4 linked regions of the Homo sapiens genome follow. The protein of the gene in region 1 interacts with the protein of each later gene in a biochemical or structural test. Each region holds a gene or a part of one and is shown in the gene's direction. Other genes may lie near its edges. The genes, in order: TGS1, XPO1, HNF4A and NCOA6.

Evidence for each region.
Region 2: the proteins of TGS1 (region 1) and XPO1 form a complex in vitro, tested with the Homo sapiens proteins (one study listed by IntAct).
Region 3: the proteins of TGS1 (region 1) and HNF4A form a complex in vitro, tested with the Homo sapiens proteins (one study listed by BioGRID).
Region 4: the proteins of TGS1 (region 1) and NCOA6 form a complex in vitro, tested with the Homo sapiens proteins (2 studies listed by BioGRID).

What each region holds. Positions count from the first base shown.
Region 1 is NC_000008.11:55,797,430-55,804,457, forward strand, and holds part of TGS1 (trimethylguanosine synthase), read left to right. Parts: intron 1-1,484; coding exon 1,485-1,791; intron 1,792-5,027; coding exon 5,028-5,177; intron 5,178-7,028. UniProt on the Homo sapiens protein: Catalyzes the 2 serial methylation steps for the conversion of the 7-monomethylguanosine (m(7)G) caps of snRNAs and snoRNAs to a 2,2,7-trimethylguanosine (m(2,2,7)G) cap structure.
Region 2 is NC_000002.12:61,493,352-61,500,379, reverse strand, and holds part of XPO1 (exportin-1), read left to right. Parts: intron 1-485; coding exon 486-667; intron 668-1,466; coding exon 1,467-1,515; intron 1,516-1,587; coding exon 1,588-1,707; intron 1,708-3,372; coding exon 3,373-3,501; intron 3,502-4,766; coding exon 4,767-4,925; intron 4,926-6,288; coding exon 6,289-6,486; intron 6,487-7,028. UniProt on the Homo sapiens protein: Mediates the nuclear export of cellular proteins (cargos) bearing a leucine-rich nuclear export signal (NES) and of RNAs.
Region 3 is NC_000020.11:44,421,673-44,428,700, forward strand, and holds part of HNF4A (hepatocyte nuclear factor 4-alpha), read left to right. Parts: intron 1-2,345; coding exon 2,346-2,582; coding exon of another isoform or gene 2,583-2,707; exon of another isoform or gene 2,708-2,971; intron 2,972-6,662; coding exon 6,663-6,815; intron 6,816-7,028. UniProt on the Homo sapiens protein: Transcriptional regulator which controls the expression of hepatic genes during the transition of endodermal cells to hepatic progenitor cells, facilitating the recruitment of RNA pol II to the promoters of target genes. Activates the transcription of CYP2C38.
Region 4 is NC_000020.11:34,738,634-34,745,661, reverse strand, and holds part of NCOA6 (nuclear receptor coactivator 6), read left to right. Parts: intron 1-2,320; coding exon 2,321-5,299; intron 5,300-6,729; coding exon of another isoform or gene 6,730-6,803; intron 6,804-7,028. UniProt on the Homo sapiens protein: Nuclear receptor coactivator that directly binds nuclear receptors and stimulates the transcriptional activities in a hormone-dependent fashion. Coactivates expression in an agonist- and AF2-dependent manner.

The sequences.
Region 1 (7,028 bases):
GCCAAACCATACCAGTAGGATCCTAATAGTCCAAATTCTGATACAGCTTTATATTATAAGCTTTAATTCTGAGTTCTTCCAGAAGTGATCAGTCACAGTTTACACCTTGTAACAAGTTCACCCTGATAGCATGAAACACAGGCCAATTTATTGATTCACATTATTACCTGAAATATTCATATATTGGACTTTGCTATACCTGCCATCCAAGTACCTGGGAAACAAAAGTAGTTAGAAAATTGCTTGGTGTGATGAATTACCTTTCTATATTCTAAGGGGTAAAAAACACTTTCTAATGAGCAGAACCTTCATGTCAATCACATCTCCAGCAGCTCTTCAGGACAGTAGACCATAATCTTAGACTCCATGATGTCTCTGTCTCTGTTGTTCGTTTTTTAAGGCTAGTCAGATGACTCTTTTTCCCCTCAATACAGTGTCCTCCCTAACTTCAGCATACTTGTAAAATATGCTACATATATATAGCTGGTTTTATTTTGTATTACATTTCAGGTTGGTTGGCTGCTGGTGATGTTTTAATAAATATGTTCGTGGTGCTAGTTATATCTGAAACAGACTGCCTAGTATTAGTCCAGTCAGTGCCATAGGACTTTCCGTAATGTGTTGGATATAATAGCCCCTATGCATTCATCTATAGATGAGTGCAGAAACAGCTACTAAGCATTGCTGAGGAAAAAAGATATGTAACTGTTGTGTCTAACTTAGATACCTAATTTATTTATAGGCACATTTCTTTAGAGGAAGATTCTGGGTTGTTGCCCATCATGTCTACCACTTCATTCTAATTTACTCACTCTCAGGAAGGTCATGAAGACAAGATAGGAAGAATATTCTTGTTACAGAAGATGCAAAGAAGTATATGATCTGATGCTGAGCCTTGTTTACATTCCAAAGAACAAACATTTGCTGGGACATATCTTACTGGCTCTACTGTTGCATTAAAAGGCAACTTTGATTTTTTTCCAAGGTAGACTGCTTCTATTCTTACAGAAGAATTGGCCCTAAATCTTTTTAGGGTTCGTCTTTGATGCTAAGTAACATTTACATAGATTGTAGCTTGACCATTGCAGAAAGGTCTATATAATTTGAAAAACTAAAATTAATGATTCAGTAGTAAGTAGGTACATTTGTAATGTAGCTGTAGCACAGTTAAATTGTTAAGAACCCTTATGGAAAAGCCACTGGGACAGTTTGGCTTTATCCTCTTAGTATTTATTGATAGCAGGAAGTATTTAATCTGATATTTTTTTCCTTTTAAAGAAAACTTTTAATAAGGTCATGGCATGCCCAGATAGCATTCTGATTAGGTCAGAATTACTTACTATTAAGCTTGTGTGATGCAGTCTGCTTTTCAGAGCCAATAATTTTGACACAGCTTTTCAGTCAAGTCACAAATTGTAATAGGTAGGAAGATTCTGTGTAGTTTGGAATTAATTCCTGCTCATGATGTCATCTTAAAATTTAAGGTAGAAAAATTCCTCACATGGGTTAATAAACCAATGGATGAAGAAGCATCACAGGAATCATCTTCTCATGACAATGTGCACGACGCTTCCACAAGTAGTGATTCAGAGGAACAAGACATGTCTGTTAAAAAAGGTGATGACCTACTGGAGACTAATAATCCAGAACCTGAAAAGTGTCAGAGCGTATCTTCAGCTGGTGAACTTGAAACAGAAAACTATGAAAGAGACAGCTTGCTAGCAACTGTTCCAGATGAGCAGGATTGTGTTACTCAAGAAGTGCCAGACTCCCGCCAGGCAGAAACTGAAGGTAACACTAAATATGCTTCAACTTGCTAATGGATTTAGATAAAATTTTTTTTGTTAATATGTTTTTTCTTAGTTTTCACTTGTGAATCTTCTGTACCTAAGGAGTCACTGCTACTTATTTTTAAGTGAGAGAAGGCATATTAAGTGTACATGTTCTAACTGGCTATGACTTAGCACCCACAGCACTCCTCACTCTTGGCTGAGTGAACATGATCAAGTAGAAAAGGAAAGACTGTTGGGAGCATTGTGTCTGCAGACCACTGTCTGCAGTTCAACTTGGCCTCTGCTGGTACTCAGTTCCATGGGCTAAAGGTGACCATCCTTTGCCTTCTTCGTATGTGGTGTAGCTTTGGTTTACTTCTTCCTTTTTTTGTGTGAGACAGGGTCTCATTCTGTTGCCCAGGCTGGAGTGCAGTGGCACAATCACAGCTCACTACATCCTTGACCCCCAGGGTTCAAGCAGTCCTCCCACCTCAGCTTGAGTAGCTGGGACTACATGTGCATACCACCATGCCTGCTTAATTATTTAATTTTTTTTGTAGAGACACAGGGTCTCACTATATTGCTGAGGCTGGTTGCCAAAGGCTCAAGCAGTCCTCCCACCTTTGCCTCCCAAAGTGCTGGGATTACAGACATGAGCCACCATGCTCAGGCTGGTTTCCTTTTGGTGTGTTTTTGTGTGTTTGTGTGTGTGTGGTTGATGATGGTCATGTGTTTTTGATGGCACGTTAATATAAAAAGTATTCAGAGCAGTTGGCTCTAATGAATAAACTGAGTAACATTTTCAATTTATGCACTTTTGTATTCGAATTTTTATAGCAAAAGTTCTTATATAGTTTAATAATGGTATTATGAAACCATTATATTTATTGTGATCCTTCATCATATTTCTTTATTACTATGGAAAATAACTTATTTGAGTCTTGATTTTTTTTTTCTTAGTGCAAGTGTGGGTGTATGTGTATGTGTGATCTTTTTATCACATATTTCTTTACATTCTAAACAGCATACCTACAGTAGTTTACATTTATTTTATTATCAATGTTATAATAACCGATGTTCATATGACATTTGTAGGTTTGTGAAATGCTTTTATGTGTCTTATTCTCATTTAATCTGTAAGGTAGCCAGGGAAGTAGGTGGAATTATTTTCCATTCTGTAAATACAGAAAGTAAAGCTGAGAGAAATTTAAAAATTAGCCCAAGTAAGTGGCATAGCTAGGACTCATTACCAGCTTCTCCAATTGCTAAGTCCCATTTTCCTGCACTATCCCACTTCCATAAACACCAATTCTCATGATGCTGGTTATTTTTACCTGGGGTAGTACCACCTTCACAAGGGCATTTGGAAGATGCTGGTTGTTAGAATGACATTTGGAATTCTGGCATTTAGTACTCAGTTACTTAATGTTAGGTCATGTACAGGATGGTCTTGCACAACAAAGAATTATTCCACCCACAATGTCATTATACCCCCTGTTGACAAATAATCACCTTACTTTGCTATTGGTAACACTTGTTTGGGGATGGGGAGATCTGACCTTACTGAATCATGATGACACTTTTTACTATTTACAATGATCAGATGAACATATTAGGACATAGCCCTATCCTTGAGGACCATTTGAGTGTGTAATGGAGTCTTATTCTTTGTTAGCCATCACCTCTTGTTTTTATACTTAACTGTGAAAAAAGTCTCATCTTTCTATGTTGTTGCTTCTAATTTGCTGAAGACTGAAACCAAATAACCAAACTGATAAAAATTATTTAAGGAAAAAATCACTCTCTGAATGAATGAGATCCTTTTCCGTGGAATGGAGCTAGTGACCCTTGTTTCAGTTTCTCAGATGCCATGTGACTTCAATGTGGCTGACAGCTAGAGCCTAATCTAGTCCTTGATAGAAAGGAAATGTTTAGATTTCTATAATTCACCACATAAAGCAGTGTCTTGGCTAACAGAAGTAATAACTTTTATGTCTATAGCAGTATTTCTACATATGTCCTGTCACTGCTGTGAATTAAGTTAGTAAAACACCACTCACTAACTCATTCATTCATTCTTTATTTTTTAGACAGAGTCTTGCTCTGTTGCCCAGGCTGGAGTGCAATGGCGCATTCTCAGCTCACTGCAACCTCCGCCTCCCAGGTTCAAGCGATTCTTCTGCCTGAGCCTCCCGAGTAGCTGGGATTAGAGGCACCTGCCACCGTGCCCAGCTAATTTTTGTATTTTTTTTTAGTAGAGATGGGGTTTCACCATGTTGGTCAGGCTGATCTTGAACTCCTGACCTCAGTGATCCACCTGCCTCAGGCTCCCAAAGTGCTGGGATTATAGGCATGAACCACTGCGCCCAGCCCCATCGTTCTTTTTTTTTTTTTTTTTTTTTTTTGAGACAGAGTCTTGCTCTGTTGCCCAGGCTGGAGTGCAGTGGTGCAATCTCAGCTCACTGCAAGCTCCGCCTCCCGGGTTCACGCCATTCTTCTGTCTCAGCCTCCCAAGTAGCTGGGATTACAGGCACCTACCACCACGCCTAGCTGATTTTTGCATTTTTAGTAGAGATGGGATTTCACCATGTTGGTCAGGCTTGTCTTGAACTTCTGACCTGCCTCAGCCTCCCAAAGTGCTGGGATTACAGGTGTGAGCCACCTCGCTCAGCCCACTCATTCCTTTTATAGGAATTAATAATTGGAGTTTAGGCCAGGCACAGTGGCTCATGCCTGTAATCCCAGCACTTTGGGAGGCCAAGGCGGGTGGATCACAAGCTCGGGAGATCAAGACCATCCTGACTAACACGGTGAAACCCCGTCTCTACTAAAATACAAAAAAATTAGCCGGGCGTGGTGACGGGCGCCTGTAGTCCCAGCTACTCGGGAGGCTGAGGCAGGAGAATGGTGTGAACCCGGGAGGCGGAGCTTGCAGTGAGCCAAGATCGTGCCACTGCACTCCAGCATGGGTGACAGAGCCAGACTTCGTCTCTAAATAAATAAATAAATGAATGAATGAATGGAGCTTAAAGACCCTCGGTTACTTTCCCAAGCTTACAAAGCCAATAAGTAGCAAAATGCTGGTGGTGATTGAAGCCAGTGGCGTTTCCATCAGGCTCTCCTGTTTCTCTGGGCGTGTCATTATATACATGTTCTGCTTGTAATTATTTGATGTGGCTTCATTTTTAGATAAACTCACCTGTGATACTAATTTTTTTCTTAGTGAGCATCTATATTCTTTGTATTTTATTTTAGCTGAAGTGAAAAAGAAGAAGAACAAGAAGAAGAACAAAAAGGTGAATGGTCTGCCTCCTGAAATAGCTGCTGTTCCTGAGCTGGCAAAATACTGGGCCCAGAGGTACAGGCTCTTCTCCCGTTTTGATGATGGGATTAAGTTGGACAGAGGTAAAGTATATATGTATTTTTTAGCTTTATTTTGAAACCACTTCAAACTTAAAAAGAAAGTTATAAGAATAATACAGGGAATGTTCATATCCCCTTTACCCAGATTCAGCTATTTTCAACATTTTGCCCCGTTTACGTTCTCATTCTCTCTCCATATGTATGTGTGTGTATCTTTTTCTGATCAGTACTTAACACACATCATGCTCATACTTCTTAATACTTTAGTGTATATTTGCTAAGGACAAGTATATTTTTGTTTAAAATAGTGAATTATCAACTTAACATTGTTCCAATATTTTAATCTACAGTTTATACTCTAATTTCATTAATTGTCCTAATCTTGTCCTTTATCACGTTTTTTTTTTCCTTCCAGTATAGGATCATGTATCATTGCGTTTATTTTTCAAGTTCTTTAGTTGCCTTTAATGTGGAATGTTTCCTTAGCCTTTTTTGTCTTTCATGACTGACATTTTTCAAAGGATCAATGGCCATTTATTTTATAGGATGCCCTTCAATTTGGGGGGGTGTGTGTGTGTGTGTGTGTATTTTTAAAATTTCAGACTTGGGTTTAATCTGTATTTGTAGCACGTTAGGATAGATAGCAAAAGCAATTGATAAATTATTAAACAGAAAACCTGATGAAGAAATATCTAGTGCAGAAGGATACAATTTAATGAATTAACTTCGCAAATTTTGAATTCTTTCTCCAGCTTTCCTGCTGTGATCTGCAACAGCTTACTTAACTCAGTCTTGCAGACTGATGCTCGTTTTCATATTGGGGTTACCTAAATATTGGTTTTTATTAACTATCAAAATCAGAAGTTCTTGATCTATGATGGAATTTCAGGGGTTCTCTGACCCTTTTAAAACAATTTGCAAAATGCTGTGTATTGGAAAAAGTACGTAGGAATTTGTAAGGAGAAATAAGGCTGGAAAACACTTGCAATTCTATAAAAGTGTATATTCTTATTTTTCCAGTATTGAAGAGCCATTTAAAGTTTTGGTAAGGGGAGACAACAGGAAAATTAACGCACATTATTTTTATTTATTTATTTTTCTTTTCTTTTCTTTTTATTTTTTCTTTTCTTTTTTTTTTTATTTTTTTTAGACAGGGTCTCACTCTGTCACCCACGCTGGAGTACAGTGGCACAATCTTGGCTCAGCAACCTCCACCTCCCAGGCTAAAGCAATCCTTATGCCTCCGCCTCCTAAGTAGCTGGGATTACAAGCAAGCACTACCATGCTTGGCTAATGTTTTGTAGAGACAGGGTTTTGCCATGTTGCCCAGGCTGCTCTCAAACTCCTGTGCTCAAGTGATCCACCACGCCCAGCCCAGCACATCATTTTGTTCAGATAATTGTCTTTCTGAAAAATGTAAATTTTTTCTACTAGGAAAGAAGGAGGTCAGTATTCTCTTTACTCTAGAGTGGACACAGGACCTCATTTCTGACAATGATGAGGGCTCTGCTATTCCTCCTGTACTTCTGCAACCCTATGGCCTTTTGCCATCCAGTTCCTTGCTTTTTCCGACCCTTTAAAAGCATGCAGTTTTGGCCAGGCATGGTGGCTCATGCCTGTAATCCCAGCACTTTGGGAGGCTGAGGCAGGCAAATCACTTGAGGCCAGGAGTTCAAGACCAGCCTGGCTAACATGGCAAAACTCTGTCTCTCCTAAAAATACAAAAATTGGCTGGGCATGGTAGCGTGTGCCTGTAGTCCCAACTACTCAGGAGGCTGAAGCATGAGAATTGCTTGAACCCAGGAGGCGGAAGTTGCAATGAGCCAAGATCATGCCGTTGCACTCCAGCCTGGGCAACAGAGCAAGACACTGTCTCCAAAAAAAAATGGAGTT
Region 2 (7,028 bases), on another chromosome or scaffold:
CTTGAACTCCTGACCTCGTGATCCTCCTACCTCGGCCTCCCAAAGTGCTGGGATTACAGGCACGAGCTACCACGCCCAGCCTGGCCAGGCTGTTCTCAGACTCCTGGCCTCAAGTGATCTGCCCACCCTGGCTCCCCACAAAGTGCTGGGATTACAGGCATGAGCAACCGCGCAAGGCCTCCTAGAATAATTTCTACATATCTATCAGGCAGATACTAATACACAGACAGACCCATTAGACGGATTGGACCTTTCATTAGGATAATTGAAAAGGGTCCTGCGGTGATTAAGATAAAAGACTTTGTGTTTTGTTTTCTACCCAGTAGGGTGAAGAGGGTGGCACATTTCTTCCTTTAATAAAGGAGGAGAAAATGAAAAGTGATTTATCCTTACTCCTGCCTTTATCCATTACATAATTTCTTTGAAGTTTGTTTTATTTGCCTTTGAGAAATGAAGTGCGATTAACATTTCATGTCTTGTTTTAGATACTGAAACAAGAATGGCCCAAACATTGGCCAACTTTTATCAGTGATATTGTTGGAGCAAGTAGGACCAGCGAAAGTCTCTGTCAAAATAATATGGTGATTCTTAAACTCTTGAGTGAAGAAGTATTTGATTTCTCTAGTGGACAGATAACCCAAGTCAAATCTAAGCATTTAAAAGACAGGCAAGTAATAATTATGTTTTAGAATTTTAAAGTGATTTCTCAAACAATTTCAAGCAGTTTGGATGTAAATTGTAGATATTTTAAGGAACTATGATCAGTAATATGTTAAATTGCTTGTAGTGGTTTTCAACTGCAGATTAAGAAATAGTCCTAGACGGGGCCTAATAATTTACCTCTGAAGGTTGAAAAATGAATTGTTCAAGACACACTTCAGGAATTGTTTTGTATGGTAACTAGTTTAATAGGTTCTAAGCAAATGATTTGTGTCCAAACATACGTATTAGTTATTTTATTTTATTTTGAGACAAGTCTTGCTCTATTGCCTGGGGTGGAGTGCAGCAGCGCAATCTTGGCTCACCACAACCCCCACCTCCTGGATTGAGGTGATTTTCTTGCCTCAGTTTCCCAAATAGCTGTGACTGCAGGTGCATGCCACAGAGCCTGGCCTCAAATCAGTTATTGTCTCTGCTTCTTTTCAGTTCCCCAATTGTTAACAATAGTGTTCTTTTTAAAACAAAACAGAAAACTAGATTTGCCTCTAATAGTAAGCAACTGGTATAAACTATAGTTATACTTCCATTAAGTTTTAAACATTTGTTGTAGTCATTAGGAAATCTTTTTCCCCTTGGGTTGCCCAGGCTGGTCTCAAACAATCCTTCTGCCATGGCCTCCCAAAGTTCTGCGATTACAGGCATGAGCCACTGTACTGGGCTTTAATCATTTTTATTAGTATTATAGATAACTGATACTTATTTCTGTGTCTTCTAAATCTGATATTTTTGTGTGTTTTTTTTTTTAGCATGTGCAATGAATTCTCACAGATATTTCAACTGTGTCAGTTTGTAATGGTAAGTGTTTTTAATTTCATTTTTAAAAACAATAATAGGAAAGCAATTATTTACAAGTGTGTTTTGTTATAGGAAAATTCTCAAAATGCTCCACTTGTACATGCAACCTTGGAAACATTGCTCAGATTTCTGAACTGGATTCCCCTGGGATATATTTTTGAGACCAAATTAATCAGCACATTGATTTATAAGGTACAGTGAATACATTTCAGTTATTTGTCACCGGATAGCCACATATATTCTTTTCACATGTAAAGCTCTCATCTCTGCATTCTAAACCTTATTCAACCTTGTTTCTAACACGAGGACGCTGCTCAGGAGAAATTTCCCATATTCACACCTAGTAAATTATTTAAAGTGAGTTTCAAATCTGATTCTGCCACTTAGACCATGTAATTTTATGAATTCATTTTGAACAATGGATTTGATTATATTGCTTTTAGTTTGAGTAAGTTACAGTGAGGTAAGTCAAGTGCTATTTCTGAAAAATGAAAAGTTCATCTTTTAACTGATAATTTAAAATTGATACCATGTTATGGCTTAAGTTCTATAATGGTTTAGCCTGGGCAAGTTGGTGAAACCGGTCTCTACTAAAAATACAAAACAGCCAGGCGTGGTGGTGTATGCCTGTAGTCCCAGCTACTCGGGAGGCTGTGGCAGGAGAATCTCAAACTCAGGAGGCAGAAGGTGCAGTGAGCCAAGATCGTGCCACTGCACTCCAGCCTGGGCAACAGAGCGAGACCCTGTCTCAAAATAAGTAAAGTTCTACAGTGGTTTATCCAGAGATAATCACTGTTACCAGTTGGTTGTATTATATTTTCAGATGTTTTCTTGACTGATATAATGAATAAATTAAGTATCTAATTGGAACATTATAACTTGACCTCTTCAACTTCGTAGTTTAGTTTGGTAAGATAATATGGATTTATAGTATTTGAATGATCAGTTTATTGCTTAATTATGTAAAAACCTTTCTATTGTCAACAGTCCTACAGAGAACATTCTCAGACATAAGATATTATGCAATTGTCCAAACATTAATTTATTTAAATATTTTAATGTTTAATCACCAGATTATTAGGTATGTTTAATTTTAAGGTTTTAATGCCCCCTGATTTCCAACCCCAGACGATAACTGTTTATCTTCTCAACAATAGAATATATAAGCCAATTTTCCCATATTCTTATTACTCTTAGATACATTGACCATTTCCCAAAATTCTAAGCAATCACAAGTTTTAGGTCCTGTGTAATTACACAGAAAGTATAACATTCCTAAAAGTCATATCACAGATTCTAGGAAAGTTGTTAAGGAGCCTTGTTATTTTAGGACACATCAAAAGAAAGCAGTTTAGGCCGGGCGCTGTGGCTCACGCCTGTAATCCCAGCACTTTGGGAGGTCGAGGTGAGCGGATCACGAGGTCAGGAGATCGAGACCAGCCTGGCCCAACGTGGCAAAACCCTGTCTCTACTAAAAATACAAAAATTAGCCGGGCGTGGTGGCATGCATGTGTAGTCCCAGCTATTTGAGAGGCTGAGGCAGGAGAATCGCTTGAATCCAAGAGGTGAGGTTGCAGTGAGCCGAGATCAAGCCCCTGCATTTCAGCCTGGGCGAGCGAGACTCTGTCTCAAAAAAACAAAAAAAGTTTGCTCCTAAAGCATTTACTGTATACTAGGTAGGCAATAAAATTCCCTCTCAGTATATCTGCATGATAAAATATGTTCATTCACTTGGCCTGTTTTTGACATCTACCCCTATATTTAATTGTTAAAGCCTTTTTCCTTTTAATTGTGAATTTTAAGTAAAGTGTGTATCAGGCCAATTAATTTTATGGTTCCCTCCCCCCTTTTAAATAGTTCCTGAATGTTCCAATGTTTCGAAATGTCTCTCTGAAGTGCCTCACTGAGATTGCTGGTGTGAGTGTAAGCCAATATGAAGAACAATTTGTAACACTATTTACTCTGACAATGATGCAACTAAAGCAGGTAATATAATACTATCTTGAAAATTGGCTGAATAATTTTAGTGCCTTAGAAAATACCAAATTCCAAATGAGTTATTTTAGAACGACGTATCAAAGATAAGCCATAATCTTTTGTTTATTACATAAAATTTGTAGTAAGCTACAAATTTTTATGATGTTTCCAAAAATTTCTTAAAATTCAGGTTTGGGGTGTGTTGTGGTAATTTATTTCTGCACACTTTAGGAGCTTGGTCTTTTGGGAGATACCTGACCAGACAGTGGGAAACCTGGGACTTGTTCCTAACATTGTGTCTGAAGGAATTCTTTTCAGCCCTAGTTTGATTGGTTATCTATTAAATGATCTAGAAGGTTATTCATAATACTGTGTTCATGGCCAGGCATGGTGGTTAATACTGTAATCCCAGAACTTTGGGAGGCCAGAATGGGAGGACCAGTTGATGCCAGGAGTTCGAGACCAGCCAGGACAACATAACCAGACCATACCTACGAAAGATTTAAAAAATAGCTAGCTGTGGTGTTGCACACCTGTAGTTCCAGCTACTCTGGAGGCTGAGGCAATAGGATCGCTTGAGCCTATTAATACAAAGTTAAAATGAGCTATGGTCACACTATTGCACTCCAGCCTGGATGACAGGGTAAATCCCTGTCTCTTTTAAAAAACAAGGAAAGATAGATTACTATGTATGTTTGTGATCTGAATGAATGAATTGATTATTTTTACATTTTTCAATGTCAGTGAGAAATACTAGAAAAATTTAAAGGCTGTGATAGCGGCCTTTAATTTATTTGAGAAGAGTCAAAATCTAAGTCCTAGAGATATAAGAATAGGTATACTGGACCTAGGAGTTCTGTATGTGGTTTAATATTAGCAAAAGGGTGTTGGGATATTAGGGCTTAAAAATAATAGTGTTGGCTGAGTGCAATAGCTCAGACCTTTAATCCCAGCACTTTGGGAGGCTAAGGTGGGAGGATTGCTTGAGCCAGGAGTTTGAGACCAGCCTGGACAACATAACAAGATACCGTCTCTACAAAAATGTTAAAAATAAGCTTAGTGCGATGGCACATACCTGTGGTTCCAGCTACTCGGGAGGGGCTGAGGAGGACTGATTGGGCCTAGGAGGTGGAGGCTGCAGTGAGCTTTGGTCATACCACTGCACTCCAGCCTGGACAGAGTGATACCTTGTCTCAAAAAAATAATAATAAAATATTAAGTGTCTTTAGTTGTTTTATAAAATGCGAACTGATCGTCCCTTTTAAAATTTGCAGATGCTTCCTTTAAATACCAATATTCGACTTGCGTACTCAAATGGAAAAGATGATGAACAGAACTTCATTCAAAATCTCAGTTTGTTTCTCTGCACCTTTCTTAAGGAACATGATCAACTTATAGAAAAAAGATTAAATCTCAGGGAAACTCTTATGGAGGTAAGATATGTGGAGCTTTTGCTCCTAAAATTCTGCTCTGCCTACTAATAACTCTTAAAAGTGCCTTTTTCTAAAATGTATGTACCTTTTGAGATTTCTTATTACTTAATATTTGATCAGTACATTATATATATTCTCAATTCTGAATTACAGTTATAAGCCCAGTTTTCTGATTTTATGTTCTCCATAAAGCTAGGACTAAAAATTTATAATCAAAATTAAATTACTAATTATTATATCATTTCTAAGGTTAAAATTTCAAAGACCTTATTTTAAAATTTCAGTTTTAATTCAAATAACATGCATTTGTTCATTTAAAGATATACAATTCATCGTGTAATCCCAGCACTTTGGGAGGCGGAGGTGGGTGGATCACTTGAGGCAGGAGTTCGAGACCAGCCTGGCCTACATCGTGAATCTCTGTCTCTATTAAAAATACAAAAAAATTAGCTGTGCGTGGTGTCACATGACTGTAATCCCAGCTCCTCAGGAGGCTGAAGCACAGGAATTGCTTTAGCCCAGTAGGCTGAGGTTGCAGTGAGCCAAGATCACAGTACTGCACTCCAGCCTGAGTGACAGAGCAAGACTCTGTCTGAAGGAAGAAAATGTCTCTCTCTCTCTCTTTATATATATATATAAACTTAAGTATATATATATATAAACATAAGTATATATATATATACACACACACACACAATTCAGTGGCATATTAGTATATATACAATGTTATACAACCATTAATACCTAGATCCAAAACATTTTCATCACCCGAAGGTGACCCTTTACCCCTAAAACAGTCACTTTCTCCTTTGTTCTCTCCCCAACTTCTGGCAACCATTATTTTGGTTTCTGTCTCTGTAGATATATCTATTCTGATTATACCATATAAAGGGAATCATGCATGTGACCTTTTGTGTCTGGTTTCTTTTATTTGGTGTTGTGTTTTCAATGTTCTTCCATGTTGTAACCTGTATCAATACCTCACTTTTTATCATGTCTGAAGAATATTCTCATTGTATGAATATTCAGTATTTTGTTTGTTCTCTCCTCTGTGATGGTACATTTGGGTTGTGATACCACTTATTGGCACCCAAGGCCTTTTAAATAAATGTCGTTCCATTAGGAGACATGATAAAAATACATATTGATCAACTACTATGTGAGAGATTTTTGAAGTGCTTTAGGGCATGTCAGAAGAAGCAGAGTTACTCCAGAGTTTGCTGTCTATTTGATAAGTATTGAAATCTGAGTTGTGATGAATAAAACATGAATTTTTATTTTCCCTTAAGGTGTAACAAGTGAAAAGCAATTTGAAGTTGGTAATGTTTAAGAATTATTTTAACAGTTTTGGTCTTCTGTGTAGGCCCTTCATTATATGTTGTTGGTATCTGAAGTAGAAGAAACTGAAATCTTTAAAATTTGTCTTGAATACTGGAATCATTTGGCTGCTGAACTCTATAGAGAGAGTCCATTCTCTACATCTGCCTCTCCGTTGCTTTCTGGAAGTCAACATTTTGATGTTCCTCCCAGGAGACAGCTATATTTGCCCATGTTATTCAAGGTAACAGAGCGGTTGGTTGAGTGTTCTTCCTGTTGCATACTGTGGTTTTGAGGTCTGAATCCAAATACTTCTAATCTGTGTAAATAAATTAGCTATAAAAAGAGAACCCAACAACTTCTCCATGAGTGTGGAAAACTAGAACATGAAAGGAGTTGAGTCTAGAACCTTGATTCTCAAGAGTGTGGTCCTTCTCTCAGTATCAACATTGGTTGTGATTTCGTTAGGCAAATTCATTGGCCACCTGCCAATCTACTAAACCAGAGTCTAGGAATGAGACACAGGAAACTCCTGTAACAGAAGTTGGTTAAAAAAATCACATTAAAACACACTTAAATAATTATAAAGCCATTTTTGTAGAATTACAGTGAAAAAAAATTTTTTCTTTTGGAGACAGGGTCTTGCTCTGTGGCTCAGGTTGGAGTGCAGTGGCGTGGTCATAGCTCACTACAATCTTGAACTCCTAGACTAAAGCAATTCTCTTGTGTCAGCCTCCCAAGTAATTGGTTGCAGGCACACACCACCATGCCTAGCAAATTTTAAAT
Region 3 (7,028 bases), on another chromosome or scaffold:
GAACCTGGGAGGCGGGGGTTGCAGTGAGCCAAGATCATGCCATTGCACTCCAGCCTGGGCAACAAGAGCAAAACTTCATCTCAAAAAAATACATATATGTGTATATATATATAATATATATTATATATATATAATATATAGTGATATATATAGTATATAGTGATATATTACGTATAATATATATTATATATAGTGATATATATTTTATATATATATAGTGATATATATTATATATAGAGAGAGTGATGAAGTGGAAGATGAGCCCCATGTATTGAATGCTCCCTAAAGAGCTGTTTTTAAACACTTTATGTGGATTGTCTTACTTACCAACATGGTACCTGTGAAGTAGGAATTATTATTATCTCCATTTTACAGATAAGGAAACTGAGGCATGATTAACTTGCTCAAGGTCACACAACCGGAAAATGGCAGAGCTTGGATTTGAACTTCAGACCACCTGTCAATCCCAATTTCTCTCTCTCAAGCCCACATTCTTACCTACCACCTGCTATCCCACACTTACCAGAGGGTGAGATTTCTAGTTCTAGTTCCCTCCACAGCCTGGCCCAGCCTGTATCCTCTGTAGTGCTCAACACGAGGCTGGACTGGCAGAATTGTTCTGCAAAATGGGAAGGATCACTGATGCTGAGTCAGAGGCAGCAGCCTCCAGCAATTTGAAGGGGCGGGGGACCTAGTTCAAGGCCTGGCATGCAGGAGGTGCTCAATAAACATGTGTGGCCTGAATGAACTAATGAATAAGCATGATTCAGTGGAGACAGCCCACTAGAAATGTGGGTGAATGTTCTTTCTGCCACTTCCTTTGTCCATGAAAGAGGAAATAAATGCATTACCTCCATGAAGGTTGAGATTAAATATTGTATGACCGCTTAAGTTCCTTTCTAGGCTAAGGATCTAGAATTTATTCACTGATTTTTTTTTCATTCATTCATCCAGCCATCTAACAAAAAATATACATATAGTTATCAATAAATATATATTTATATATAAATATATATTTTTTAAAATATATATATATATAGTCTGTCACCCAGGCTGGAGTGCAGTGGCACCGTCTTGGCTCACTGCGACCTCCACCTCCCAGTTTCAAGCGATTCTCCCACCTCACCTCCTGAGTCGCTGGGATTACAGGCATGTGTCACCACGCCAGGTGAATTTTTGTATTATCAGTAGAGATGGGGTTTCACCATATTGACCAGGCTGGTCTCAAACTCCTGACCTCAAGTGATCCCCCCGCCTCGGCCTCTGACAGTGCTGGGCTTACAGGCATGAGCCACCATGCCTGGCCCTATTCAATAAATATTGACTATGCATGGTGCTAGGTGGTGAGTTTGAAAAGGCAAAGGCCGGGTGCAGTGGCTCACGCCTGTAATCCCAACATTTTGGGAGGCTGAGGCAGGCAGATTACTTGAGGTCAGAAGTTTGAGATGAGCCTGACCAGCATGGTGAAACCCCGTCTCTACTAAAATACAAAAATTAGCTGGGTGTGGTGGTGTGTGCCTGTAATCCCAGCTACTCGGGAGGCTGAGGCAGGAGAATCGCTTGAACCCAGGAGGCAGAGGTTGCGGTGAGCCGAGATCACGCCACTGCACTCCAGGCTGGGGGTCAGAGGGAGACTCAGTCTCAAAATAAAATAAAATAAAATAAAAATGGCAAATAAGACATACGCGTGCCCCTGCCAAACTCACAGTTGGATGGCACAACAATTACATCCTGTGTGGTCAGCAGTGATGGAGGGGCCGCAGAGATTTGGAAACAGGAGGGACACAGGATACAGATATAGGAGGGTAGAAGGCAGACTTCCTGGAGGAGGTGAAACCTAACCTGAGTCCCTAAGGTGATAGGAAGCAGGAACCAGGGAAGGGGAGCCTATTCTAACACAGTAGAAGCAGCAACTGCTGAGGTCTGGATGAGGGGACCTCAACTGTGGCCCAAAACCCCAAGTTCCCATTGTGGCTCTGCCAACAACTGGCTGTGCGACCCAGGACAAGTCCTATCTTTGCACTGTGTCTGGGTTTCCCCGTGTGTAAGATGAGGCGGTTGCTAGGTGCTTATTGGATGCATTCCTCAAGTCCCGCCCTCCATCTCCTATTCCCCTCTCTTCTGGTTTAGTGCTTTAGGAAATGTGGCAGAAATCTTTTTCTGCCTGTGTCTAGGAAATCATAATTCATGCTGGCGTACCCTGGTTGTTGAGGTCCCTGAATCCTTGTGCCCACACTGCTGAAGACTCCTTGTGTGATACAAGTCAGGGGACATCTGGGTCTTGACTCCCCAGATGCTCCAGCTGGACCCTGCTGCCCTCCCTTGCCCACCCTCTTCCATTGTAGATGCCAAGGGGCTGAGCGATCCAGGGAAGATCAAGCGGCTGCGTTCCCAGGTGCAGGTGAGCTTGGAGGACTACATCAACGACCGCCAGTATGACTCGCGTGGCCGCTTTGGAGAGCTGCTGCTGCTGCTGCCCACCTTGCAGAGCATCACCTGGCAGATGATCGAGCAGATCCAGTTCATCAAGCTCTTCGGCATGGCCAAGATTGACAACCTGTTGCAGGAGATGCTGCTGGGAGGTCCGTGCCAAGCCCAGGAGGGGCGGGGTTGGAGTGGGGACTCCCCAGGAGACAGGCCTCACACAGTGAGCTCACCCCTCAGCTCCTTGGCTTCCCCACTGTGCCGCTTTGGGCAAGTTGCTTAACCTGTCTGTGCCTCAGTTTCCTCACCAGAAAAATGGGAACAAGGCAATGGTCTATTTGTTCAGGCACCGAGAACCTAGCACGTGCCAGTCACTGTTCTAAGTGCTGGCAATTCAGCAAAGAACAAGATCTTTGCCCTCGGGGAGGCTGTGTGTGTGTGAGTATGTATGGATGCGTGGATATCTGTGTATATGCCCGTATGTGCGTGCATGTGTATATAAAGCCTCACATTTTATGATTTTGAAATAAACAGGTAATATGATAGAGTTTAACTGAAAAGGAATCCTCTTTAGATAGGGGAGGCCACAGGAGACCTCTCTGAAGTGGTGACTCTTGTGCTAAGACCCTAACGGCTGAAAGGAAATGGAAGGCTTAAAAGACAAGAGAGGAATATTCCAAGAAGAAGAAACTACTTCAAGGGCTGCGGATAGGAGAGAGTGTTGTGTTTGAGAAAGAAGGGCAAGGTTGTGAGATGGAGGACGTGTAGGAGGTGAAGATGGAGATTGGGCAGAAACCAAATCATAAACATATGGCTTTGTCAGCCTTTTCAGAAATTTGGATTTTATTCTCATTGCAACTATTGTAAGGAGAGTGAAAACCAGACTAAGTATTTTTATTCTTTGAGACAAAGTCTCCCTCAATCATCCAGGCTGGAGTGCAGTGGCACAATCTTGGCTGACTGCAACCTCCACCTCCCGAGTTCAAGCAATTCTCCTGCCACAGCCTCCTGAGTAGTTGGGATTACAGGCGCCCGCCACCACGCCCTGCTCATTTTTTTATATTTTTAGTAAAGACAGGGTTTCACCCTATTGGCCAAGATGGTCTCAAACTCCTGACCTCAAGTGATCACCCACCTCAGTCTCCCAAAGTGCTGGAATGACAGGTGTGAGCCGCCACACCCATCCCAGACTAATGCTTCAAACAAACCACTCTGTTGGGTAGAGAGTGAATTGCAGATTCCTGAGAATGTCACTGTCTCCAATCATGTGATGGATGATGGAGGCTTGGACCCTGGCAATGGAGCAGTGAAGATAAACCTGATCATCTATTTGGAGGAAGAGCCCACACCCACAGGATTTGCTGATTGATCAGACATAGGGAGTGAGAGAAAGAGGAAGAGTCAAGGACAAAGTCTACATTTTTGCTTTGAGTAGCAGAAATGACGATGGAGTAATTTACTGAAATGAGGAGGACAGAATAAACAACAAGACACTGGGTCTGGGGGTGGTAGTGAGGGGTGACCTCAGAGATCCATTGTGGACCCTCTTTTCTTTTTTCCTTTTTTTTTTTTTTTTGAGACGAGATCTCTCTCTGCCACCCAGGCTGGAGTGCAGTGGCGCAATCATAGTTCACTGTAGCCTCAACCTTCCAGGCTCAAGAGATCCTCCTACCCCAGCCTTTCAAGTAGCTGGGACTACAGGTGCGTGCCACCACACCCAGCTAATTCTTCATTCTTATTTTTTATAGAGACAAGGTCTCACTATGTTGCCCAGGCTGGTCTTGAACTCCTAGCCTTAAGCAATCCTTCCGACTTGGCCTCTCAAAGTGCTGGGATTACAGGTGTGAGCCACCATGCCCAGCCTCATTGTGGACTTTCATTAAGCATGAGATGACTATTACAAATCCAAGTTATCAAGGAGGCTGTTGAATGTATGAGTCTGTTGCTCAAGCACAAGATTAAAGGCAGCTCTGTGGAATCAGGGGGAAGATGGAGCCATGGAGGGAAGGGAAGAAGACTGGCCAGAGGGGTAGGAGAAAACCAGGGCAATTCCAGAATCCAAGAGAAGAGCGTGTTTGAAGGACAGAGTGTTTAATGGTGTTAAACTCTACAGAGAAACAGAAAGAAGCGGGGAAGAAAGGAGAGGTGAAGAGAGGAGGGGAAGAGAGAGGAAAGGGTCCATTGGATTGACAGCTGGAGGCTCTTGGCAATTGTGTTGAAAGCAGCATCAGAGAGCTGGGAGAGTGGAAACCAGATTGGAGAGTGCTCCAAAGAGAGTGAGTGGGAAGGTGGAGATAGAGTAGATAACCCTTTGAAATGGTTTGACTATGAAGGGGAGTATGAAGGAGTTAGGATGACTGCAAGGGAGTGATTAGAATGATAGGTCATGGAGTCTGGGCTGCACTCAAAAAGAAATAAAGATAGAGGCCGGGCACGGTGGCTCACACCTGTAATCCTAGCACTTTGGGAGGCCGAGGCGGGTGGATCACTTGAGGCTAGGAGTTCAAGACCAACCTGGCAACACAGCAAAACACCATCTCTACTAAAAATACAAAAAAAAATTAGCCAGACATGGTGGCATGCACCTGTAATCCCAGCTACTCGGGAGGCTGAGGCAGGACAATCACTTGAACCCGGGAGATGGAGGTTGAAGTGAGCTGAGATCATGACATTGCACTCCAGCGTGGGCGACAGAACAAGGCTCTGTCTCAACAACAACAACAAAAGGATGGGGTGATAGTGAAAAGAGAGTGTCAGTGAATTGACAGTCTCAGTAGGGCTGAAGAATTTTTGCAGCGATGGTATTAGATTACGGGAGCTGGAAGGACATGAGGTGAAGTCAAAGTGGGGATGTTGAATTCGAGATTTTGGAGGTGTTTCAGTGACTGAAGATGACAAGGCGAGGGTGAGGTTTCTCAACATTGGTACTATTGATACTTGGAACTGGACAATTCTTTGTTGTGTGGGGCTGTCCTGTACATTGTTCAGCTGCATCTCTGTCCTGTACCCATAAGGTGCCAGTAGCACTTCTCCAGTGGTGACAACCAAAAATGTCTTTGGATATTGTCAAATGTCTCCTGATGGGCCAAAATCATCCCCAGTTGGGAATCGCTGTTATGTGATAGCTCATTTCATTCTCACTTTGACCCTGTGAACATGGGGTTATTATGAATCAGGTGTCATTGAGATCAGGATCAGGAGCCTGTGGTCTGTTGCCAAATAATTAAGAGCTCTCTGGGCTCAGTTGTCTCATCTGTAGAATGGGCTAATAATAGTATCCATCCTATAGGATTGCTGTGAGGATTAAATTATGTGAAACATGGGAAGTGCTATACAACAGTACCTGGCACGTGATAATTGTTAATTATCAACAATTGTTATTTATCACTGAAATAGATGTACTGTAGAGATCGCTTGCAAGCGTTGAAATTCCATCATCGTCATATTACTCACCATAGGCTATTATTAAACCATATCCCATGTGGTATTTTTACTCCCTGACATATGTTTGAAGCGGTTACTGTGTTCCAGACAATCTGCTAGGCCCTCAAAGAAAGAAGAAAAATACCTCTGAAATTGTAATGCTCATAGACAGAAGAAGTGGTTGTTCCTAAAAGTTGTGTTACAGACAAATTACTATGAGAAATCCAAGGAAGGAGAATCAGGAGAGGCTTCTAAAGAGAGGAAATATATGAGCTGGGATTTGGGCTTATGGACATGGAACAGGTTTGGGGTGGAAAAACATCTCTGACAGAAGCAACAACGTGAGCAGAAGCATAGAGATAGAAAAACACAGGGGACACATAGATGCTATAAGTAGGTCAGTTGGCTGCAGCAGAGATGTGGGGGATGAGGCTGAAAGGTGAGGCGGGACCAAATGGTTGAAGGACTTGCACTCCAAGGAGCTTTGAGAGCCATTGATTACATCCATTATGTTACTATGTGACCAATACACTACTCATTAGAACATTTACGTGATCTCAGAGCTTCCTTATATGCACCTTGTTCCTTTCAACTCACTTTTGTTCTCTTGGTTTTTTGGGGTCCTCTTAACACCCTCATGAAGTCTATAGATGGGAATGGTACACCCTAGTTTACTAACCCAGGAATAGGTACCCAACAGGCACTGCCAATATTGGATGGGCTGGTTGATTGGCCACGCCTGAGGAAGATGGCGTCCCAAGGCCTGAGGTCTGCATCCCAGACTCTCCATCCTGATCGACCTTCTCTACCTGCAGGGTCCCCCAGCGATGCACCCCATGCCCACCACCCCCTGCACCCTCACCTGATGCAGGAACATATGGGAACCAACGTCATCGTTGCCAACACAATGCCCACTCACCTCAGCAACGGACAGATGTGTGAGTGGCCCCGACCCAGGGGACAGGCAGGTGGGCAAACTCTGGGATTTTACCTTGCAAAGGGTGAGGATGGGGCTTAAGACAGGAGGCAGGAGAAAGTGGAGTCTAGAAGGTAGAACCAGGATGCAACAGTTTTCTGGGTTCCAGGGTAGGGAATAAAGGGCAAGATTGTCCATTTGTTGAGGCTGTTTATTCAGTAAGGTGACTGACAGCCTTTACTGAATGAAGCCATTGTTGGGATGA
Region 4 (7,028 bases), on another chromosome or scaffold:
AACTTCTTTTTGGCATGAAAATGAGAGCGACATTATTTTAGGAGTAACCTTTAATCTACCCCTAATTTATGTATTTTAAAATTGAATCCAAACAAAAAGCTAAATCCATCATGATATCAATACTTTGTGTTATTTATTACAAATTATTTGGGCATATCACACTTCCCGTCAGTGAGATGCAGCAGCATAGCTGAGACTGGGAGGTCATCAGTCTTTGGGGAGTATGTCCAGAAGGCATTGAGAGCAGGAACATGCCTGCTTGCCTCAGACACATCTGAACTCTTCTTATAAGAATCCCAGGGGTCTTTGTATACATTTATTGCCTTCTTTCTGCAAACTGGGGGCCTGCAGGCTGAATTTGGCCTATAATGGTTTTGAGTTGCTATGCAGTGTCTTAAACAAAAGTCCGAGTTTAAATGCCTTTAAATAGGGCATCTGCTCTGCAGTTTGGCACTGTTGACAGGACTCCTGCTGTCTTATACCAGTCCACTTCTATTCTCTACTACCTGCCTGGCCCCTAAAGGCATAGGAGTTTGCATTCCCTGAGTAATAAATTCAGTTTGTGATTGTGTTATGGGCACTATGTGTGTCCTGGCTTTCCCTCTTCACCATTCTGTCACGTCAGCCCCAATCTGTCTTATCATTAGTGCCTTTTGGACTGCTGCCTCCAGCTTCTGGACTCTGTAGCAGCCATGCCCTTAACTGTTACTTTTGAGAGGCTGCTATATTGTCTATGCTGTCCTCTTTGGTATTTACTGTCTGGTGGGCTGATTTTAAAGATAAAAGGCATCCATGTCATAACCCTGACATCAACAGGCTTTTGTAGCAATTACAAATTTCTTAATGTGGGAACCCCAGACTGAATGTGAAAAATAGGAACCCACTGTATTTGACTATGTAGTCGAAAGGACAGTTGAACCATAGAAATGCCATGTTATTGGCTTTATAAAGGTGAAGAAGTTACTCGGGCCTAAAATAAAAAAGGATTTTTTTAAAAATCTTCAAAACTGGATTCTACACATTGTATTCATTGATACCATGGAAATCTTTGGCCAGAAGACATTAATTGAGTGCTGAGTCTGACCCACAAAATTTGGTAGCTGCTCTATGAAAATGTTGAGTCAGCATTTCTTTTGACTGCCAGAGCCAGTTGTTCTTATTCCTACACCTTCTTAAAACCTCCCTAATGTACTCTTCATGCAACAATGGAATAAATCTAGTTTGTGGAACTGGAATTGTATCCCATATATGCCCAGCTGTATGCCCACTTTTTCCCACAGAACCACCGTTATTCTTGGTTTGCGTATCTTTTTATCTTTTCTGATTGTAAGGTTTTGGTTCTAAAATGCCAAGTAAAATCTTCACAAAAAAAGAGAATAATTTGAGATGTTGCCCTCTGCATATCTAGAAGACATTGTCCTTCAGAGTTCTTTTCCCAAAATTATTTTTTATTCCTGAGGGCTATGCTTCTGCCTTACTTATTCTCCAGCTGTGGATTCATGGAAAATATTTCTCCAAATAGAGATTTGCATGTAAGAAAGTAAGTGCAAATTAATATCCATAAAAACTTCAATGCCCTAATTTTATTTTCAATGTGTATATCAGCTTCCATTAGCTCCTACTGTTTATTAAACTGATTTACACCTGAAGGGCAATTTTAATTCAGTCGGTTTCCCCCAAAGGATTAAGCCTGAAGGATGCGGCGTAGTGTATGGAGCCAATGAATTGGAATAATTTTAAATTCCTCTTTCTTAAGGAACTGAATCCTAGAATTTTATATTTTACTTCTGTTGAAAGAATAAAAAGGCTGTCTTCAGTGCTGTTATTTTCAACAAAACCACATCTTAAAAAAATTATTCCTGTGCTAACAGAAGAAGTGAATCCTAAATGCTTTACTTCATTCACAAGTACATTGAAATATTGATTATGACTACATGAGACCTGAATCTTGGGTGGCCAGGCACTTGATGTTGATGGAGTTTTTCTCATTTCATCTGAATGTTTGGCTGGTATAGACACAGCCATTTTCAGTGCATAGCACAGAAAATCAGGCTCTTAGTACAGTCATGGCTCATTCAGATCCTACACACCGAGGAGCTCCAGGTTTTTTGATGCTTTGCTTTTTGCTTCCTTAAGCACTGTGCCCCTTTTGCTTATGTCAAGTAATGAGGGGCTGCCCCCTGCCCCAGGAGTGGGCATGCCTGAGCTGTTTGTGCATAGTCTGTGCCACCTAGATGAGTATTGCTTGGCTATACTCTAAAGGTAGCAACATTTTCTTGCTGAAAAATCTAACTTCCCTAATTTGGGGGGCTTGTTTTAGGTTATCCTTCTCAACCAGTTGAACAGAGGCCACTTCAGCAGATGCCTCCTCAACTCATGCAGCATGTGGCACCCCCACCACAGCCACCACAGCAGCAGCCACAGCCACAACTGCCTCAGCAGCAGCAGCCACCACCTCCCAGTCAGCCACAGTCTCAGCAGCAGCAGCAGCAGCAGCAACAAATGATGATGATGCTCATGATGCAGCAGGATCCCAAATCAGTTAGGCTTCCAGTCTCTCAAAATGTCCATCCTCCAAGGGGCCCCCTGAACCCCGACTCCCAGAGAATGCCCATGCAACAGAGTGGCAGTGTGCCTGTCATGGTCAGTCTGCAAGGACCTGCCTCCGTGCCACCATCACCTGATAAACAAAGAATGCCAATGCCTGTGAATACTCCCTTGGGAAGCAATTCAAGGAAAATGGTCTATCAGGAGAGCCCGCAGAATCCTTCCAGCTCGCCACTGGCGGAGATGGCCTCACTCCCTGAAGCAAGTGGCAGTGAAGCACCATCTGTCCCAGGAGGCCCAAACAACATGCCTTCACATGTAGTACTTCCCCAGAATCAGTTAATGATGACAGGGCCAAAACCTGGACCATCGCCCCTTTCAGCAACTCAAGGTGCAACTCCCCAGCAACCCCCTGTAAATTCCCTGCCCAGCTCTCACGGCCACCACTTCCCAAATGTGGCTGCGCCAACCCAGACATCTAGGCCCAAAACACCAAACAGAGCCAGCCCCAGACCCTATTATCCTCAGACACCCAACAACCGCCCTCCCAGCACAGAACCTTCAGAAATCAGTCTGTCACCAGAAAGACTCAATGCCTCCATAGCAGGACTCTTCCCTCCACAGATTAATATTCCTTTACCTCCTAGGCCAAATTTAAACAGGGGCTTTGATCAACAAGGCCTAAATCCAACAACTTTGAAGGCCATCGGGCAAGCACCTTCAAATCTTACCATGAATCCTTCCAATTTTGCTACCCCACAAACTCACAAATTAGATTCTGTGGTAGTGAATTCTGGAAAGCAGTCTAATTCTGGAGCAACAAAACGGGCAAGTCCAAGCAACAGTCGCAGGTCTAGTCCTGGGTCCAGTAGGAAAACCACTCCAAGCCCTGGGAGGCAAAATTCAAAAGCCCCTAAACTTACTCTGGCCTCTCAGACAAATGCAGCCCTATTGCAGAATGTGGAGTTGCCGAGAAATGTATTGGTCAGTCCCACTCCTCTGGCCAATCCCCCTGTACCTGGGAGCTTTCCTAACAACAGTGGGCTGAATCCTCAGAATTCTACTGTGTCTGTGGCTGCAGTTGGGGGTGTTGTTGAGGATAACAAGGAGAGCTTGAATGTGCCTCAGGACAGTGATTGCCAGAATTCCCAGAGTAGGAAGGAACAGGTAAACATTGAACTAAAAGCAGTCCCTGCCCAAGAAGTTAAAATGGTTGTCCCTGAAGATCAGTCCAAAAAGGATGGGCAGCCTTCGGATCCTAACAAACTTCCCAGTGTCGAAGAGAACAAAAATTTGGTGTCTCCTGCTATGAGGGAAGCACCAACATCGTTAAGTCAACTTCTTGACAACTCTGGAGCTCCCAATGTGACAATTAAACCCCCTGGGCTTACAGATCTGGAAGTAACACCTCCAGTAGTTTCTGGGGAGGACCTCAAAAAAGCATCTGTCATTCCCACACTGCAGGATCTGTCTTCTTCTAAAGAACCTTCTAATTCCCTAAACTTACCTCACAGTAATGAGCTGTGTTCATCCCTTGTGCATCCCGAATTGAGTGAGGTCAGTTCTAACGTTGCACCAAGCATCCCTCCAGTAATGTCAAGACCTGTTAGCTCTTCCTCCATTTCCACTCCCTTGCCCCCAAATCAAATAACTGTATTTGTCACTTCCAATCCCATCACAACTTCAGCTAACACATCAGCAGCTTTGCCAACTCACTTGCAGTCTGCATTGATGTCAACAGTTGTCACAATGCCCAATGCGGGTAGCAAGGTTATGGTTTCTGAGGGACAGTCAGCTGCTCAGTCTAATGCCCGGCCTCAGTTCATTACACCTGTCTTTATCAATTCATCCTCAATAATTCAGGTTATGAAAGGATCACAGCCAAGCACAATTCCTGCAGCCCCACTGACAACCAACTCTGGCCTGATGCCTCCCTCTGTTGCAGTTGTTGGCCCTTTACACATACCTCAGAACATAAAATTTTCTTCTGCTCCTGTACCGCCTAATGCCCTCTCCAGTAGTCCTGCTCCAAACATCCAGACAGGTCGACCTTTGGTCCTTAGCTCACGAGCCACCCCTGTTCAGCTTCCTTCCCCTCCTTGTACGTCTTCTCCAGTTGTCCCTTCTCATCCCCCTGTGCAGCAAGTGAAAGAATTGAATCCAGATGAGGCTAGCCCTCAGGTGAACACCTCAGCAGATCAGAACACTCTTCCCTCTTCACAGTCAACCACAATGGTTTCTCCCCTTTTGACCAATAGTCCAGGGTCCTCTGGCAACCGGCGAAGCCCAGTCTCGTCTAGTAAGGGCAAAGGAAAAGTGGACAAAATTGGCCAAATTTTGTTGACCAAGGCATGTAAGAAAGTTACAGGCTCTCTTGAGAAAGGGGAAGAACAATATGGTGCAGATGGAGAGACTGAAGGCCAAGGGCTAGACACCACAGCTCCGGGGCTCATGGGAACAGAGCAGTTATCCACAGAGCTGGACAGTAAAACCCCAACGCCCCCAGCACCCACTCTGCTAAAAATGACCTCTAGCCCTGTGGGCCCGGGCACTGCCTCAGCAGGACCCAGCTTACCTGGCGGTGCTCTCCCCACCAGTGTACGCTCGATAGTAACCACTCTGGTACCCTCCGAGCTCATCTCCGCCGTACCGACCACAAAAAGCAATCATGGTGGCATAGCATCTGAGTCACTTGCGGGTGGCCTAGTGGAGGAGAAGGTGGGATCCCATCCAGAACTTCTACCCAGCATAGGTATGTACTTGGGGCTTCATCATCTCTTTGTGTCAGTTTTTTGATGACCTAATCCCACAAGAGAAAGCATGACTCCTTTTTTACTTGGAGGAAAGAGAATGGGCTAAATGGCAATAGCAGTAGTTTTATTTATTGAAAGTACGTTGGAAAATATGCTTTTAAATCCCATGTTAAGTTTGCATTCATTAAAGAGAGCTAAGGGCCAGGTGCGGTGGCTCACGCCTGTAATCCCAGCACTTTGGGAGGCCGAGGTGAGTGGATCAGTTGAGGTCAGGAATTCGAGACCAGCCTGGCCAACATGGTGAAACTGCATCTGTACTAAAAATTCAAAAATTAGCCAGGCATGATGGCACACACCTGTAATCCCAGCTACTCAGGAGGCTGAGGCATGAGAATAGCTTGAACCTGGGAGCAGAGGTTGCAGTGAGCTGAGATCATGCCACTGCACTCCAGCCTGGGCAACAGAGCGAGACTCTGTCTGAAAAAAACAAAACAGAGAGCTAAGGCTCTCAAAACAAAGAGTTCCTGAAATAATGATACCTTTCATTTATATAAGTTTTTCAATTTATAAGGAAGCATTTTTACATATGTTGTCTTGCATCATCTTTATACCAACTATGTCAGATATTCTTAACCCCATTGTATGGGTGAGAAGATTGAAGCTCAAAGACGTTCAGTGTTTGTTCAGAGTCTATACTGTGAACCTCCCATTTAACACTGTGCCTTAAGTGTGAACAGCAGCTTCTGCAGATTCTCTTTACCAGGGTGAAGATTTGCTCATGACTATTTCAGAACAATGGGTCCTCATAGCCCCATTCTCACTGTACTCTATCTCAGGAACCATTCTTTTTTTGTCTGGGCTACTCTAGAGGAGAGCTGGAAGAAAACTGGGTTTCATGATAATGGACACAGTAGAAACAAAGTGGTCAAGAGCCAGTAGGCTTGGGTTGGTATTATAACACCAGCATTTACCAGCTATATGGGCTTGGGCAAGTTACTTGACCACTCCAGACTTTGGTTTCCTCCTTTGTAATATGGAACAATAATAGTTGTAAGAATTCAATAAGGTAGTACATATAACATTCTTAGCACAGAACCTAGCATATAATTATTATTCAATAAATGGTAAAAATTGTTATTCCCAGTTTCTTTTTGATGTAATCTCTTTGTTGATTGGTACATTCCATTTGTGTATCTAGTTCAGGCTATTTCCTATGTACTGTTAAGATGGGCTAATGATGGAAGCATAGGTGTCCTTACAACCGCCCCTCCTTCCCTTCTTCCCTTCCCTGACATGTTCCTCCTCCTGTGAGGCTTAAGTGAAGAAGCTCTATTTCCCCAGAGTGGAGTCAGTCACACACTGCTAGAGCTGGGAAAGACCTTTACGATATCCTAGGCCAGCTAATTAAGTGCCTATCTTATTTATGCAGCTAAAATGCTTCGAGTGCCTACCACTGAGTGGTAAGCACCCAGGAGGAGAGGCAGAAAGAACACAAACTTCAGGGTAAGATCAGAGTTCAAATTCTAGCCCACTGGTTACCAGTTACAGTTGATACGTTCCTTAACCTCTCCTAAGCCATGTATTTCACTTGTAAAATGGAGATCGTACATTCTACCTCCCAGAATTTAGGATTCTGAGAGAGGACTCAATGAGAAGATTTGTCAAGTGGCCAACACACTGCCTCACGCAGAGCTCTGGAAAGGTTAATTCCCCTTCTCTCTGCCTCTT